2 separate regions of the Homo sapiens genome follow, and region 2 is linked to region 1. The links come from fine-mapping of genetic effects on gene expression. Tissue or cell type: whole blood. Region 1 holds a variant in brackets; the other region holds the start of a gene. All regions are shown on one strand. Distances are from middle to middle.

Region 1 (2,500 bases):
GCTATTTATCCCTTAATATAATTTCAGGCAAGGCACTGAACATTTTTATTTCATATTGTACCCAAAAATTCACATTCTGGTAAAGAACAAGAATAAATGAGAAAAAATAAAGTGCTGCCTGAGAGAGGTTGTAGAAACTCAAACCCATTTTTCTTTCTAAAATGTACATTTAAGGCTCATTCTTTTTCATTTCCAATACCACTTAAGTTTTTGAGTAAATACATGAACAGAAAAACCAATTTAAAGTTGTCTTAATCCAAGAAAGACAATTTCATTAAAGATATCTTTTCCTTGCATATCCTAAATGTAAGCCTTCCTGTGTCCCAAATTCTACGGTATTAGATGAGTTCAAGGGCTTTAAAATTCTACTTTCCCCCTCAACTGTAACAGCCAGAATACTGCTTTTGACAGATTTTTGAGACGAAAATATTCACAGGGCTAAAAAATGAGATATTTTCAGCCAGACACAGTGGCTCACACCTGTAATCCCAGCACTTGAGAGGCCAAGGCGGACAGATCACCTGAGGCCAGGAGTTCGGGACCAGCCTGGCAAACATGGTAAAACCCCATTTCTACTAAAAATACAAAAATTAGGCCAGGCACGGTGGCTCACGCCTGTAATCCCAGCACTTTGGGAGGCCAAGGTGGGTGGATCACCTAAGGTCAGGAGTTCAAGACCAGCCTGGCCAACACGGTGAAACCCAGTCTCTACTAAAAATACAAAAATTAGCCGGGCATGATGGCAGGTGCCTAAAATCACAGCTACTCAGGAGGCTGTGGCAGGAGAATCACTTCAGCGCGGGAGGCGGAGGTTACAGTGAGCCAAGATCGTGCCACTGTACTCTAGCCTGGGCGACAGAGCAAGACTCTGTCTCAAAAATAAATAAATAAATAAAATAAAATAAAAATTAGCCAGGTGTGGTGATGCACATCTGTAATCCCAGCTACTCTGATGGCTGAGGCAGGAGAATCACTTGAACTTGGGAGGCGGAGGTTGCAATGAGCTAAGATCATGCCACAGCACTCCAGCCTGGGTGACAGAGCAAAATACTCTCTTAAAAACAAACAAAAAAAAAGAGGTATTTTCTTTTTAAAATTAGGCATGTTATGACTGTTTAAAAACTCTAAATTATGTTATTTACATTCATTCAATAACATTTATTGAATAGATATTGTGTAAGGCATTTCCAGGATATAAAGAAAATCACGTTCTAACTAAAGAAAAATAAACCGTAAAAA[T/C]GCAGAAACTGCAGTATAAATTAAGTTTTGCAAACAAAATAAAGATGAATAACCCTTGAACATTCCTCAGCGGTTATACTGTAACACACATACACATAAATGCATGCCAATTCCAGTGGTGATAATACAGCTTCCCTAATTTTGGGTGCTCAAGCATAGCAATCAATTGTGCAATAACTTTTAGGGTACCTGGGAGACAGAGGTGGGAAGACTGAGTTTGTCTCCCTTCCTTTCAATTAAATTACATTTATTAAAAGTCTTAGATTTTATGTATGGGTCAACATCATCCAAGAATATGAGGTAAGTAACTAAAAGTAAACATAAATGTAAGAATGATTAGGGTGTATTTTTAAATTATTGATAAACTGAAAATTTATATATATTAAATATATATTTATACATTATATATTTATCTGTAATTTATAGATAGTATATATTTACTATATATAGTGCATATATATGCACAATTCTATAGTACTTGAAAATGTATTAAGTACCTAATCATTGCAAGATACTATTTTTTAATACTTGAATATTTGTGGCACTAAGGGGTCTAAGTAGCATTTTAAATACTTCTTGATGGAATACAACATACAGTATGCAGAATACACATATAGACAGAAATATATAAAAACAATTAGTAAATAGGTTTAATAAACAGGTGAGCAACACCCATACAGCCACCATCCAGGTAAGTTTAAAAAACAGAATACTGCTAGCATTCCTGTAGTGCCCCATGTACCTACCCCTTCCTGGTTATAACAGCAACCCTTCCTATGCTTTGGAGATAACTTATCCTAACATTTTAAGAAATAGGTCTTCAATTTTCTTTATAGGTTTACTATCCATATGCAAATTCCTAAATATTAATTTTTTTTAAGTGATGGAAGCTAACTTTATTAGAAATGAAAGGTTCACTCTTGTCCTTGCTCCCTAATTACTTTAATTTTACTTTAAGTTCTGGGATACATGTGCAAGAACATGCAGGTTTGTTACATAGGTATATAAAATTTTGTCTATCTTTATGGAAATGAAATCATACTGGACAAAATATTTTGTCATGCTTCTTTCACTCAACCTTACATTTTAAGAGTTATCCATGTTACTGTATGCAGCCAGTTTATTTTCATGACTATTTCTTTTATAATTTATCCATCCTTTTTTTTTTTTTTTTTGAGACTGAGCTTCACTCTGTCGCCCAGGTAGGAGTGCAGTGGCATCATGTCAGCTCACTGCAACCTCCATCTCCTGGGTTCAAGCA
Region 2 (2,744 bases), 380 kb after region 1:
GTGTTAAATATATTTATATAGTGTTTTTTACATCATGTGCTCAGTGGGAATACTGCAAATGTGTAAAACACCTAAAATGTAAACTATATTAACACACATTTTAAAAGATACAGGTCTTGGCCGGGCACGGTGGTTCACGCCTGTAATACCAACACTTTGGGAGGCCAAGGCTTGTATAATGCTTGAGCCCAGGAGTTAAAGACCAGCCTGGGCAACACAGCAAGACCCCCATCTCTACAAAAAAATACAAAAATTAGCCGGGCGTGGTGGCACACACCTGCTGTCCCAGCTACTGGGGAGGCTGAGGTGGGAGGATCACCTGAGCCCAGGAAATCAAGGCTGCAGTGAGCCGAGATCGCGCCACTGCACTCCAGCCTGGGAGACAGAGTGAGACCCTGTCTCCAAACAAACAAACAAAAAACAAGTCTTTAGGCATCACTGAGGAACACCTAAAATGGATACAGCACTAACTAGACACCCTCGACCCTGACTCCCTAATAAAAGCGTCAGTCTTTTGCTCAATATCCTGACCTGACAGCAAACCAATAAAGACACGGCATAACCAAACTCCACAAATTTTTGGCCAAATAAAAGAAACACACGCAACGCTAACATTAAACCTTTTCTATGGCCGCTTCACGATAAGTATTACAAAATCCCCAGAAAGAGTTTATTCACCTAGCTCCGACTGTCGCCATACAAGGTGGAGCAGTGAGTGACCCGAACCAGGGGCTGACCCCTGCCAGAGCCCCCACAGCGACTCACTGCCCCCCCCTCCGCATTCCCATCTGCACAACTTTCTGTGATTCAAACAGTCCGGAGCCAGGGCTCCCTGCAACTAACGCTATCGTGACATTATAAGCCGGTTAAATACTGAGGTCATAAACCCACTCAGAAGTAAACAGAAGCAACATTAGTGAGCAAAGTTGAGGTTTAAGCAATACGGAAAACTAGAAACCAAGCAAAACCAGCAAAGCAACTAGCGTTGTCTCTCAATAAGATCTTCCAAAAGAGGCAAAGTGGAGAACCTGCTCTCCCCCGCACTCCGGAAAACCCAAACAGCACCAAAGCAGGTTCTACAACAGCTTCCCGGAGCAACTAGGCCAGGGGATGCGACGCCGCGCATCTCCCCCCGTCACACCAGGGGCCCGCGGAGGTCTGGTGGGGACGCGGAGCTCCAGGGGCCGGCCGGTGCAGGGACACGGCCGGGTTGGGGGTGGGGACGCGCGGCCCTGCCTCCTTGCCGGCCTGCGGTCTCCAGGGCCGGCCCGCACGGCTGCTGGACAGCGCCATGCCCACGCACCCCCGAACCTAGCGGCCCCCATTCCGGAACTCCCAGCTCCACGCGGCTGGGGTCGAGCTGGGGCCCGCGGGCAGGCGCCCTGAGCACCCGCGTGACGGTACCTGTGGTGGCAGCACCTCCCAAGCTGCGGCGGCGGCGGCGGCGGCGACGGGGGCGGCAGCAGGGGCGGAGCGCGGCGTGCGCGCTCTCGGCCCGCAGTCCGGTGCGTGGCGCCCTCCCTCTCTCTCCTGGCCGCCGGGTGCCCGCCCCTTCACCTCTCACCTCCTACCTTTACCCTCCCGCCCCGCCGCCCTCCGCACGTGCGCCCAGCGGCGTGCGCATGCGTAGTCGAACCACATTCGCGTCTCCCGTTCGCCCTCTGGTGGACACCGGAGGGAAGTATGGACGGCCGGGCCGGGCCGGGCCGGGCGGAGCGTGAAGCCGGGTTAGGGCCCGCCGGGTTTGGGCCCACCGGCTCTCATCGGTCATCAAGAACTTGCAGAAAGCCGGGCACGGTGGCTCGCGGTTGTAATCCCAACACTGTGGGAGTCCAAGGCGCGAAGATCGCTTGAGCCGAGGAGTTAGAGACCAACTTGGGCAACGTAGGAGACCTCCGTCTCCACAAGTAAAATTAATTAGCCGGCTGTGGTGGCGCGCACCTGTGGTCCCAGCTACTCAGGAGGCTGAGGTAGGAGGATCACCTGAGCCCGGGAGGTCGAGGCCACAGTGAGACAAAAAACAAAAAACCCACCCTGCACAAGATGCTCATGTTCCCTGTTTTATAATGGCAAAAAATTAGAAGCAGCTGGGCCGAGATACACTGCAAATGCAGATGAGAAGAATAAATAATGTCCATAAAACTAGTTTCCCTATAGACATTTAAAAGCATAAGTTGACATTTAACCATTTTCCACAGGGAACAGGTATTTGTTATAATAGCAACAGCTACGTTCACTGTTTACTAGGTGTCAGTTGCGGAGCTGGTATTGTACATGTCCTCGCATTTGGCCCTCCTGAAAATCCGAGGTAGGTCTTGTTACAGGGCCTCACAGAAGGGGAAGGGGAGGCTGCCTCCCCTCGAGGGAAACACAGGTCCCCACCTGCCCAGCTCTGGCCCAACTAGAGACGCTGCCCGGACCACTCTGGGGGGACTTTGATCATGCTACTGCATGCCCTTGCTGTACCCAGGTCTTGTGTCAGAGGTAAGCCTCCCCTCAGCCCCTGCCTACTGCCCGAGACACCCGCACCCACCCCAGGGCTACCTGGATAAGGCAGGCCCTGTACCTGCCCTCAAAGGCACCAGCAAACTTCTCTGGGAGTTCCAGAAAGTGCAGATCTAGTCACCAATGCAAGGCAGAAATTAGAGGTGGCCCTTCTGACCGCACCAGCCCCCGACCCACTACACATTCTTCAGATACCTCCTCCTAAAACCCAGTTCCCACCGGACTCTGGCCTCCCTCCT

What was found. PIP is the estimated chance that this variant, and not a neighbour inherited with it, causes the effect.
Region 2: it holds the start of SCAP, and the variant in region 1 is fine-mapped to the expression of SCAP in whole blood (TOPMed, PIP above 0.99).

The regions. Positions count from the first base shown.
Region 1 is chr3:47,090,888-47,093,387 of GRCh38, forward strand. All of the region lies in intron 9 of SETD2 (SET domain containing 2, histone lysine methyltransferase), which reads right to left. Among named protein-coding and RNA genes, the nearest start is that of SETD2, 72 kb to the right of the region's middle. The variant T/C (reference allele first, on the strand shown) is at 1,240.
Region 2 is chr3:47,474,395-47,477,138 of GRCh38, forward strand. SCAP (SREBF chaperone) reads right to left here and starts at 1,547. Exons shown (of 23, transcript NM_012235.4): 1 at 1,405-1,547. LOC105377073 (a long non-coding RNA gene) reads left to right here and starts at 1,551. Exons shown (of 3, transcript XR_940821.3): 1 at 1,551-1,970; 2 at 2,248-2,308. RefSeq lists a silencer at 1,095-1,634.